Regions from separate parts of the Homo sapiens genome. Here regions 1 and 3 are each linked to region 2. Evidence: fine-mapped expression QTL. A gene starts in region 2. Each other region holds a variant in brackets. All regions are shown on one strand. Distances are between the middles of the regions.

Region 1 (4,243 bases), 100 kb before region 2:
TGCCCTTCTTCTAACGGATGCTCCCAACCCCAACTCCAAGGGGGTGTTGATGTTTAAGAAGCGACGTCGGAGGGCCAGGAAATACACCCTAGTTAGCTACGGTACTGGCGAGCTTGAGCGAGAGGCGGACGAGGAGGAAGAAGGTGACAAGGAGGATACATGTGAAGTAGCATTTCTTGGTGCAAGCGAATCAGAGGTGGATGAAGAGTTATTGTCTGACGTTGACGACAACACACAAGTTGTGAACTTTGACTGGGATTCTGGACTGGTGGACATTGAAAAGAAACTGAACAGAGGGGACAAGATGGAGATGTTACCAGACACCACAGGCAAGGGAGCCCTCATGTTTGCCAAGAGGAGGGAGAGAATGGATCAGATCACAGCCCAAAAAGAAGAGGACAAGGTAGGTGGAACGCCAAGCAGAGAACAAGATGCTGCCCAGACCGATGGCCTGAGAACCACGACTTCTTACCAAAGAAAGGAGGAAGAGTCGGTAAGAACGCAGAGCTCTGTGAGCAAAAGCTACATCGAGGTGAGTCATGGTCTTGGCCATGTTCCCCAACAGAATGGCTTCAGTGGGACATCTGAGACAGCAAACATCCAGAGGATGGTCCCCATGAATAGAACGGCCAAACCCTTCCCAGGGTCTGTGAATCAGCCAGCTACCCCCTTCTCGCCAACCCGAAACATGACGAGTCCCATTGCTGACTTTCCTGCACCTCCACCTTACTCTGCAGTCACTCCTCCCCCTGACGCCTTCTCCAGAGGGGTTTCAAGTCCGATTGCTGGCCCAGCACAGCCCCCTCCATGGCCCCAGCCTGCCCCGTGGTCCCAGCCAGCCTTTTACGATTCGTCTGAGCGAATAGCTTCCCGAGATGAGAGGATCTCAGTGCCAGCAAAAAGAACAGGAATATTGCAGGAGGCCAAAAGGAGAAGCACGACAAAACCCATGTTTACTTTTAAAGAGCCCAAAGTAAGCCCAAATCCTGAACTCTTGTCACTCCTTCAAAATTCAGAAGGCAAACGGGGCACTGGAGCTGGAGGTGATTCCGGACCGGAAGAAGACTACCTCAGCTTGGGGGCAGAGGCTTGTAATTTCATGCAAAGCTCCTCTGCCAAACAAAAGACCCCTCCTCCTGTTGCTCCAAAACCTGCAGTCAAGTCCTCATCCTCCCAACCAGTAACTCCAGTTTCCCCAGTCTGGTCTCCAGGAGTGGCTCCCACCCAACCTCCTGCCTTCCCCACATCCAACCCATCAAAGGGCACCGTTGTCTCCTCCATCAAAATAGCCCAGCCTTCTTACCCTCCTGCCCGGCCTGCAAGTACTTTGAACGTGGCTGGTCCCTTCAAAGGACCACAAGCAGCAGTAGCCAGTCAGAATTACACACCCAAACCAACAGTTTCCACACCAACAGTCAATGCTGTTCAGCCTGGTGCAGTGGGACCATCCAATGAGCTTCCAGGAATGAGTGGGAGAGGAGCTCAGCTCTTTGCTAAAAGGCAGTCGAGAATGGAGAAGTATGTGGTCGATTCAGACACGGTGCAGGCCCACGCTGCTCGAGCTCAGTCTCCCACTCCATCTCTCCCGGCCAGTTGGAAGTACTCCTCCAATGTCCGAGCACCTCCTCCTGTGGCCTATAATCCTATCCACTCGCCGTCTTACCCACTGGCTGCTCTCAAGTCTCAGCCATCAGCTGCACAGCCCTCCAAAATGGGCAAGAAAAAGGGAAAGAAACCCCTCAATGCATTAGATGTCATGAAGCACCAACCGTATCAGCTCAATGCATCCTTGTTTACTTTCCAACCTCCAGATGCAAAGGATGGCCTCCCCCAGAAGTCATCAGTCAAGGTCAATTCAGCCCTGGCCATGAAGCAAGCTCTTCCTCCC[C/T]GGCCAGTGAATGCTGCCTCACCTACGAATGTGCAGGCTTCGTCAGTGTACTCGGTACCAGCCTATACCTCTCCTCCTTCCTTCTTTGCAGAGGCCTCCTCACCAGTCAGTGCATCCCCAGTGCCTGTGGGCATTCCCACCTCGCCAAAGCAAGAATCAGCCTCATCATCTTATTTTGTGGCACCAAGGCCAAAGTTCTCAGCCAAGAAAAGTGGTGTCACAATTCAGGTGTGGAAACCATCTGTTGTGGAAGAGTAATCTTGTAGCTGAAGCTGAGTGTCCACTTTGCTTGAAATGAATTGTTTGCAGTGTTTCTTGAGTCCCTGAGAATGCCTAGCAAAGTCCTCAACTTACTTAATTTCAGATATGTCACCTCCTAATCTGGGTCCAAGGAGTATAATATTTTTAATGAGTCAAAAATCCAACTCAGATTGACCTAAAATATATTTATCTTCTTTGCACACTTAAAAAATCCAGGAGCACCCCAAAATAGACATGTACCGTTATATTAAGTAAGCAGGAGACTTAGGATTTGTGCTGTAGCCACAAGAAAGACAGTGATCAGTGATATCAAACATCAGGAATCAGCCTTTATGTAACATAACAGCTGTCCTCCTATGGTGAAAGGTTCAAATGTAGTGAAGGTATAACCTATATTGACTGAGATTTCCCTTTTAGGTAGTGCCTTATCTCTATTACTAGTGTTAAAGGAATAAGGAATCTATGAAGGACAGGGAGCAGCTCTGGTCTGTCAATCTCAGCCACCTGTTTGATATCACAGAGAAGATACTCGGAGGATTGTTGGAATGTATATAGTTTAGTAAGAAGTGGGTAAGAAAGAGGGTCTTAATTACTGAGCACTTATTATGTATTAGGTTCTTTGCCAGATGTTTTTACATATATAAACTCATTTCAGAAAACTTATTTAAAGTAAATGGGGCCGGGTATGGTGGTTCATGCCTGGAATCCTAGCACTTTGGGAGGCTGAGGTAGGAGGACTGCTTGAGGCCGGGAGTTGGAGACCAGCCTGAGCAACATAGTGAGACCCTGTCTCAATAATAATAATAATAATAGTAATAATGAAGTAAATGGGATAAGGAAAGAAGGATAATTATCTTTAAAGGTTGATTCCCACCCTCCCTCCCCAGTTACTTAAGGAACTAAGTGAGTACATCTCCAGTTGCCCATGAAAGCATAAGTTTGTTTTCCTCAGCTGAGGCAAGTGGTAGAGTATACAGGATAACGAAGTAACATGTAAAAGGCAGGACGCACATAAAGGTGTACATGGCTATTGTTTCACCTGGAGAAACCACATGATTGGGACCTGAAGGTTTACTGACTGACTACAGGGGCTGATTGTGAAGCACGAGGAACCCCATGTGTGTGGAGACTGTAGGGTGAGAGCACACAATTATTAGCATCATTTCTGAGTGATCTCACAGATTTTTTTTCTTGTGTTTGCTTTGCTTTTTGACAACTGCTTCTCCCACGTTCCTTGCAATTCTATTCTCTCACCTTCACTTTACTATTTGTATTCGATGGACCAGGATAATTCAGGCAAGGTTACCTTGTAAACTTTAATTGGCCACACACCATGTTGTCACCCAGCTGGCTATGAAGTGAATAATGGTACTGAAAGTAAACCTGAAGACCTTTCTCAGATCTATTTTAAGTCTGAGTCTGACCAACCATGGAAAATATTCGACATGAATTAATGTAGAGAACTATAAAGCATTTATGACAGCTCCAAGAAAAATCATCTACTCTATGCAGGAGATATGTTTAGAGACCTCTCAGAAAAACTTGCCTGGTTTGAGGGTACACAGTACCATTTTAATCTTCTGAAAATATCTGTATTCCTGCTCTTTTTCTGCTGTCACTGTCAATCTGCTATATTTTTCACTATCCTATTAAAATATTACTGTCTCCTTTATCTGTTCAATGTCCATATTTTAAAAAAATCTTCCTTGTATGAGCTATTCTGATCTAAATAATTTCTCTGATATTTCTCTATATGGCTCCCACAACAATTTCATTGTTGTTAGCATATCTATTTCTCCATACATTGTAAAACTGTAATCCTTAGGTATTTCTAAAACATAAAGAGGAGAATTAAGTCAGCTGCAGAACAATGGGGCTGATTCTTCTGCTTTTTCTCTGGAAAATCTTTCATTGCTTTTGGTGGAAATTTACCTAGAGGTTACAACCACAGGATGTAGCTTGGTCTCTTATTTGCCTTTTTGGGAAACCAATTAAGATTAATACAGGATAAAGGAAAAAAGCAATCTATTCATTATATAACACAGTTGTTTGTATTACTTGTTCCCTGCAAAGGAAATCTGTTGAATGCTTGCA
Region 2 (4,243 bases):
AAAACAGAGTTTAAAAGACTTGTCTAATAGCATACTATGGTAAAGGCTACAGCCAGGAACATACGGGCACTCAAGGGATTTTGAGAGGGAATTTAAATTTATTTGCTTTGGCAAAATTGTTTCTCATTTGATACCTAATTATACTTTCAATGCAAATGGTTTGTTTAGAAACAATTGCAATAGGTTAGCTAGATTAGCTTAAACCTGCTATCTACAACCTTTAGCTTTCTCTTTTTTTTTTTTTTTAAACAAGGTCTGGTCTTGCCCGGGCTGGAGTGCGGTGGCTTGATCATGGATTACTGCAAACTCTACCTCCTGGACTCAAGCAATCTTCCCACCCCAGCCTTTGGAGTAGCTGAGATTATAGGTGCATGCCACTCACCTGGCTAATTTTTGGGTTTTTTGTTTTTGTTTTTGCTTTTTTGGTAGAGGCAGAGTTTTGCTAGCTGGCCTAGGCTGGTCTCAAACTCCTGGGCTCAAGCGATCCACCCACCTTGGCCTCCCAAAGTGCTGTGATTTACAACCTTAAACTTTCAATCCTATGATCAGGCACCAAAATGTATAACCGATTTCAATCTTATAAAATACAATTCCTCCCACAAATAGCCACCACCTTTGTACATTCAAGCGACTGTTCATTTGAATTCCAAACTCATGCCAAACCTTTAATGCATTCTGCAGTTAATCTCCAACCTACTCATTTATTCATTCATTCAATGAATATTGAGTGCTTACCATATGCCAGATACAATTCCAACTGCTGAAGATACAAAGCCCAAGCCATTATAGGATTCATAGTTTAGTAGAAAAAAGAGATATCACATAAATAGATGCAACCTCTACCTCCTGGACTCAAGCAATCTTCCCACCCCAGCCTTCAGAGTAGCTGGGATTACAGGTGCTAGTAAAACTGTTGAGGACGCCATTTCAACCTTTAGAATTGTACATAACATAAACTTTTGCTAGATAGATAGATAGATAGATAGATAGATAGATAGATAGATAGATAGATAGATAGAATAATGTTGGCATGTTCTTAGTGAAAAAACTGAGTTGTCACTCAGCAACAATTATTTCTTTGTTAGTAAGTTATGTATGAATTTTAATTGGGCTCATGACCACCTAGAATAGAAGCTACACTTCCCAACCTTTCTTGAGTTATGTACGGCTATATGGCTAAGTTCTGCCCAATGGGATGTAAACAGAAGTATGAACAAAATATCAGACATGTTCTGAAAAGAAGACAGTGTTCCCTTCTCATTTTTTTTTCTTTTTCCTGCTGGTTGAAATATATGCATGCTGACTGGAGCTGGGGCAGCCAATTAGGCCCAAGGGGTCTGCATTTTAGGGATAGTGGAGCAAAAAGTTAGAGGGTAACTGAGCCCTTGATAATTATGTCAGTCATGCAAACCCTCAATTACTTACTTCTAGACTAAGCTTACCTGTGAGAGAAACATCTTCCATCTTTTTACAGTTCTGTTTTGGGGGGGTTTCTGTCACTCCCATTTGACTTTTATCTTAACTAATAGAAAAATATAAAGAAAATGAAGCAGAGTAAGGGACTAGAGAGTGGCACAGTGTGATATTTTAGACAAGGTGATAAGGGAAGGATTTTATGAGGGATTGTTATCTGAGCAGAGTCCTGAATGCATGACTGTGCCATGTGAGTAGAGGGAAAGTATGGAAGGGGGAAATAGTAAAAGGAATACAGTATCTATTTTCATTTTGGAAACCAAAATTAACATAATGATTATCTGTTGAGGACACCATTTCAACCAGGGAAAGGGGGAAATAGTAAAAGGAAAGGGGGAAACAGTAAAAGGAAAAGCCCAGAGATGAGAGCACGTTTTTGTGTCCAGGGACCATCAAGGAGGCCAAACCTTTTGACAGGCAAACCTTTCAAATCTTGTCAGGCCTGCAAATGAAAATCCTTGACCCTAGACATTGTAAAGACTGGTCAACTTTGCAGGGACTGGTCTCTGTAGGCCCTTCAAAAAGCATGACCCAGTTATGAGTCTCAGCTTTTACCCAGCTTCATGGCTTATCCTCTAATGGTTCATTTCAAAATGCTTCCTGAGTTCACTATTCAAATACTACATACTTTTCTCAACCTAGCATGAGTTCTCACTACAGCTTAAGAACTGGCTCTATTGATCCACCCCACATTACTTCCTTTCTTCTTGAGTCTACATAGATATTACTGCCTATATTGTTCATTTTAATTATGAAAAATCTATCATTCTGTTCTGATTCATGCATGTGTCTCTTGCCACCTCAATTAACATGTAACATAAGAGCTAGATGTTTAAAAGTGTTTAAAATCCCTTTTGGCTACTATCTGTTCAACAGAAAGTGCTCACTAAAAACTTTCTGCATGTCCAATGAACGTTTCATTTAACCATCTCACAAACTAGAAACACAATGGAGAGAGCCTAATCTTTCCCTGTTCCTCCCTTTCGCCAGGAAGATATGAGTAGCTAAAGTATTTGGTGCTATATATAGCCAGTTGATGTCAGCTGAATGCCAGTCTCTTCAGAAAAGCTCAGTCCCCAGTTTGAGTCAGAGTAGGGACCATGCTGTCCCAGGTTCAAGGATAAAAACCATCAGGCCCAAGTGCCATCCATAGTCCATCTCCAGAGTCTTCCTCCACAAACTGGGATTCATCCCCGCTGAAAAAGCACAATCTAACAGCAAGGTGAGTATGTTGTTTCCTAAAATGTTTCATTAGTCAGTTGTCCAAGGATATTCAGAGTTGTGACTCATAAATGGGCATTCTCTGCTTTAAAGGGCAGCTGTTGCCAATATTAAAATGCTACCACCAAAGAATTCTGGTTTAGTCTAGTGTCTTCTTCATTCTTACAGTTTGCTGGAATTGATGGAGTGTGATGCTGGTACAAATGAAGGCCAGTGAGGAGACAATGACAGACTAAAATACTGTGGAGAAAAGAGAGGGAGGGGAAAGGAGACCAGCAATTTCATTGTTTCTCACTGCCTGATGATCATTGTATTAATGTCCAGACTGGGTCTCTGTTCACTGTGACATTGCCTGTCAATGAATAACATACTCTGTCACCAGATAAGGAATGCGTATTGAAGTCTTTCAGTAGCAAGCGATAATAACTTTTTAATAAAGAACAAAGATGTTGTCTTTCAAAACAGTGATTATAAGACACTCCAAATGAGTTCTTCACATTGCCTCAATAATGTCCCTTTGTTTTTAACAGGGAACAAAAAAACCATGCTATCACATAATACTATGATGAAGCAGAGAAAACAGCAAGCAACAGCCATCATGAAGGAAGTCCATGGAAATGGTATCAATAAAAATCCTTCGTAGCATTAATATAGCACAGCATGAATGTGGCTCCATCCTGACGTTGTTTAATATTCCATAGTTTACTTCCTTTAGATTCTTGCTGTTCTGTCATAACAAACCTGGAGCTCTAGGGGGTGTAGAAAAGCCTATGGTAACTAATCCTTTTGTAGTCATCCTTTCTCATTTGGAAGCTATTTTCAGAGGAACAACTGCTGTAAAAGGCATGAAGCAATCTGACAGCTGATGTACATTCTGCTTGGCTTGCCTTCCACATTATAAGTTAAGATCACTCTCGATTCTTTTTTTTTTCTGGACAAGTCTCATACAATCTTGTCTTTATTGTCCATCCCACATGGTTTAGCTTGATTTCTTTTACCTTACATTATATAAATCACTCAAAATAAGTTCTATCATCTTTTTTATCAAGCTATTAAGTTGGAATTCATATTTATTGCTTATTATTTAACTCCATTTCTATTGCTTATTTATTTAACCCTTCATATTTGTTAATTGATTTACTAACATATTTTGTGTGCAAAGTCTACTTTTATTTGTAACTTCTGAGAAAATATAAAGTTATTGTAGTCTCAAAGCATATGACTCAAAAAAATTTTAATATATATTACGTGCAAGGTAATATTTCACTCTCTCCTTTTCTTTAAATTCTAGCAACTAACTTGAGAAAGCAATGCTTTATAACTTGCATTTTGATTCTTATAAAGGAAATTCAACTTTGTTTATAAGCAACGTATAGCATCAGTTTTAAATGTTAAGAAAAATATTCAGGTCCTCTTAGGAGCTGATTTGAGCCATTCCAGATATATTAGTGGCATTTTCAGAATGCCTCCTTATTTCCCCTGTATTGACAAGGAATGCAGCCTTTCACCACTACAATATTGAGACCTAGAAGCTTGAGACCCGGGAAGA
Region 3 (4,243 bases), 84 kb before region 2:
ACAGTGCATGTGTAAGCAGGGTTTCAGCCAAGAGAATTGTATCACTTTCAAGGTTTATGGTATAAAATAGTTTAAACTTTGACTCACGACACATACATCAGATTTATCTTCTTTGGCTTCTAGGACAGTTTACATTGCTTTAAAATTCACTTCTTTGTGCTAAGTAAACCTCAGATTACACTTTCTTTTTGCATGTCAAGTGTTCCCTGCCAGTTAAATTGGTTACTAGACAGCTAGACAGTTTAACAAGGAAGCTAACTAAGCTGTTTTATTAACAAGCTGTGTGGATAAACCAACATTTAATTGACATGAGAAGATGGTTTATGTTAAGCTGAGAAAGGCCCTCAGCTCCTCTGAGCTTTTCTCCTGCATGCAGAGCCCCGGATATCTCATCTTCATGCAGCAGAAGTGCATCTAAATGCGATGCACTGTATTCCCTACGGCCCGGTCACCTGCCTGTTCTTGTGACAAATGCCAAGATGCCAGTATTCTTTAATCCAAATTTAATCCAAATTTAAATGACCTTTTCCAAAATTTCTAAGATCTTACTCCATTTAGTTTGCATGGTTTTGAATCTTTTTTTTAAAAAAAAGATGTTCTCAGGCTGGGTGCAGTGGCTCACACATGTAATCCCAGCACTTTAGGAGGTTGAGGCAGGCAGATCACCTGAGGTCAGGAGTTCAAGGCCAGCCTGGCCAACATGGCAAAACTCCATCTCTACTAAAAGTACAAAAATTAGCCAACCATAGTGGTAGGCACCTGTAATGCCAGCTACTCAGGAGGCTGAGGCAGGAGAATCACTTCAACCCGGGAGGCAGAGGTTGCAGTGAGCCAGGATCGCCCCACTGTACTCCAACCTGGGTGACAAGAGCGAGATTCTGTCTCAAAAAAAAAAAAAGATATTCTCTCAAAACAATATCATTGCAAGTATAGTCCAATTAGATTTAGGAACTCTGGTATGAGACTGCCTGCCTGGGTTCAATTTTCCACCCCAACACTTACTAGCTTTCTACCCTTGGGGAAATTACTTACTTTCTTCAAATCTCACTATCCTCTGGAAAAATAGGGATAATAATAGTGCCTCTACTTCACGGGGTTGTGACGATTACGTGAAACACTCCACATAAAGAAATCAGCCCCCACTGCCTGGCATACAATAAGCAATCTATTAATGTTGGCTATTTTTAAAGGCAGAGGTAGAAAAATGCCTCCTTAGTGTTAAGCCCTTTTGTGGGACTATATAACACCAGATGACTCATGAGTTCAGTGGGAGTCTTGCATGCATTATATTGGGCCAGCTAAAGATTGGCGTGTGCTCTCGTGGGTTGAATAATCAAAGAACAGAATACTCTAAATGCACACAGACTGAATGTTCCATATGCAGTATTAACTATACCATCTGCCAGATGACATGGTCCCGCAGTCATTTTGAATGATGTCTTCACTCAGCACGTGGCCTTGTGTTTATGTACACACATCTACTTAAGAAGATCAAGATATTATACCTGCATTAGCCTTGCCCAACAAACTGGAGGGAGAAGGATGTGGAGAACTTGAGGGAGTGAATGACATAGATATTATTTCTCCTTAGTTTGAAAAATAACAGATAGCAACAGGATAGTAAAGATATTCAAGGAGGGTGGAAGAAACTGGGAATGTATGAAGGAATGGCTGCATAGAAGTACAAGTAGATGTAATCCATGTTAGCAGAATCACTGGGGTAAAGCCATGGGAAGCAATTTTTTTTTTTTTTTTTTTTTGAGACGGAGTCTCGCTCTGTCGCCCAGGCTGGAGTGCAGTGGCGGGATCTCGGCTCACTGCAAGCTCCGCCTCCCGGGTTCACGCCATTCTCCTGCCTCAGCCTCCCGAGTAGCTGGGACTACA[A/G]GCGCCCGCCACTACGCCCGGCTAATTTTTTGTATTTTTAGTAGAGACGGGGTTTCACCGTTTTTTAGCCGGGATGGTCTCGATCTCCTGACCTCGTGATCCGCCCGCCTCGGCCTCCCAAAGTGCTGGGATTACAGGCGTGAGCCACCGCGCCCGGCCGGGAAGCAATGTTTGATTCAATGTAAGAAAGAAGTTCCCAAAATCTAGAGCCTAAGGATTGACCAAGATGCTCTGGAAACAAGTAACCCCTCTTCTCTAGAGAGAAGACTCAGTGAGGTATAAGCTTTCAACTTTATTCGAAGTTATTAGAGAAATTTCTTGGAATTGATTTGTAGAAAAATATTTCCAATTTTAGCTTATATTTTACTTTAAAAAGAAAAATAGGAGAGAGGGAGCTTTGTACTGTACTGAAAATGAGATGACAGGATGTTGAAGTTTTACCCAAGGCCCCCAGATACAACAGATGCTGCCCACTGAAGTGAGATTCCAGATTCAAATGCAGACTCTACAAAGAATATAGTAGCAAATGACTTCCACAATTCTTGAAACCTTCAGCCAGGTCCAAGTGATTAAAAGGGGTTGATTATGGCAAGGAGAGAGGATTCTGTGAGAAGGAATTCCAGAGTGCTGAAGATGTGTGTGTTTGGAGTGGGTGGCGTGGAGGGGGTTTCACCTTTTTACCTCAAGCTGTGTGCAAGAAGAGTTTCAAAGTGTCTTCTTAGAGAACTTCATGGGAGATACTTGCATGAGGATGGGTAGGAGGTCAGAGTGGGGTCTGAGTGCCACTCAGGAAATTTGGAGGGAAAGGGACAGGCTGACAAACTGTTCTGGCACAGAACCAGGACATTTTCTTCTGCATCCCCACAGGCAAATGATGTGAGTGTTCCCCATGGACCAGGCCAGTCCAGGCTAGGAGCAAGGGAGAGCTGGCTGGGGTCAACCTGGGGCCTCTCTGAGGGGGCAGATGGATCCTAGTAGCTACACACTGTAGGTAGACAGCTTCCTAAGGGAGCATATAGGATGAGTCCAAAGTCACTCCCTAGAACAGAGAAGAATTAGCATGAATCAAGGACTAGAGGTAAGATGTCCCCAGTGATGGGAATCTTTCAATATCCCATAAAAATGTCCCTCTCTGGGCCTGTCTGGCCCCAAGAGTAAGAGGCCAGAACATGATGTTGCCAAATCAAGTAAAAACTTTCTTCTCCTCTTTTATTCTACTCCTTTTTTTCCTCCAACCCCAGGGGGCCAGAAGGCAGAGTTAGCGACCTGAGAGAAGAAGTGGAAGTAGAGTGAAGAAGTCAACCACACTCCTTCCCTGAAGGAAGGCAGCCTTTCTGAAGCAGGCCCCAGCTGGGGAAGGAGAGGAGATTTAACTCTAATAAAGTTGAAATTGGAGTTTGTTATTTCAGGGGATGGCATCATCTATTTCAAAATAAAACTGGTTTGAGTAACTTAAGGTAACCATTGAACTCTTCCTAAAAGTAAGCAAAATGTCCCAGGATCTGCTAAGTTTTCTTCCAGTGGCAGCAGAAAACTTTTTTTTATTAAATAAAGTTTAAAAGGTAGTGGGAGACAGAAAGAAGCAATTTGATGGGTAAAGCTAATTTAACATCTTGGTTACAGTTAAGTGCTCTCATATAAAAATATTAAATTCCCTTGATGATGATATAACCCATGGTGGAAGTGACAACCCAGGACCTAATCCATGCTATGCTAGGATTCCAGCGTCAGACATTCAAACTCCAAAACAAAAGAAACACCTCTGTTACTTTCAGGTTCCTTTGGTCGTTTCTGGCTCAGGGTATATCACATGGCTTCATTCAGCCAGCCAAACAGAGAACAGCCTGAGCCTTGAAACTGTGATGGACAGAAGGAAACAGCACCAAAAAACACTGTGAAAATTGCTTTGGGGAAATACATTAAAATTAGAAGTATGGGTGCCAGTAGAGGCTAGAGGCTTGCAATATTTTGGACACAAACAGAAACTACATTGTACCTATGGAATGATTTATTTATATCCCAGTTGGATCTCTAACCTAAAATGGTTTATCATCTTATCCTCTATTACTAGCACTTGAAAGAATGTGAAGGCATGTTCGTCAGTCTGGGGAAATGTAGAAGAGCCATGGTCATTTTGCTCATTGAGCTGGTTGCTCTTCTTTCCTCACTGCTGTTACATTTGTCATATGCATGTTTGGCGTGAGATTTTTGCTTTCAGCTTCAATCCTAGGTTTTAATTTCCCTTCAGAAAGCCCTGGCTTACTCTTTCAATACCATACCTCAATATTTTAGTTTTCTCCCTGCATATTCATCTCTTTGTTAATAGGATATCACTGAACAATATTTTGAACTTTATAAA

Alleles and levels. Positions count from the first base shown, and alleles are read on the strand shown. Sizes are in standard deviations (SD) of each study's normalised expression.
With allele C in place of T in region 1, the expression in gastroesophageal junction of the gene that starts at base 2,545 in region 2 is lower (moderate effect, 0.43 SD a copy in GTEx).
For the expression in transverse colon of the gene that starts at base 2,545 in region 2, allele G in region 3 goes with a lower level than allele A (small effect, 0.35 SD a copy in GTEx).

What was found. PIP is the estimated chance that this variant, and not a neighbour inherited with it, causes the effect. A credible set is the group of variants that fine-mapping cannot tell apart.
Region 1: its variant is the best candidate, but not a certain one, in a credible set for the expression of MYOZ2 in gastroesophageal junction (GTEx, PIP 0.77).
Region 3: its variant is the best candidate, but not a certain one, in a credible set for the expression of MYOZ2 in transverse colon (GTEx, PIP 0.64).

What each region holds. Positions count from the first base shown.
Region 1 is chr4:119,029,912-119,034,154 of GRCh38, forward strand. SYNPO2 (synaptopodin 2) reads left to right here. Exons shown (of 5, transcript NM_133477.3): 4 at 1-2,116. Among named protein-coding and RNA genes, the nearest start is that of SYNPO2-AS1, 47 kb to the left of the region's middle. RefSeq lists an enhancer at 1,761-2,260. The variant C/T (reference allele first, on the strand shown) is at 1,889.
Region 2 is chr4:119,133,288-119,137,530 of GRCh38, forward strand. It overlaps MYOZ2 (myozenin 2), which reads left to right and starts at 2,545. Exons shown (of 6, transcript NM_016599.5): 1 at 2,545-2,695; 2 at 3,225-3,314. The coding sequence starts at 3,239. LOC102723967 (a long non-coding RNA gene) reads left to right here. Exons shown (of 3, transcript XR_001741422.1): 3 at 1-267.
Region 3 is chr4:119,049,448-119,053,690 of GRCh38, forward strand. All of the region lies in intron 4 of SYNPO2 (synaptopodin 2), which reads left to right. Among named protein-coding and RNA genes, the nearest start is that of SYNPO2-AS1, 67 kb to the left of the region's middle. The variant A/G (reference allele first, on the strand shown) is at 1,885.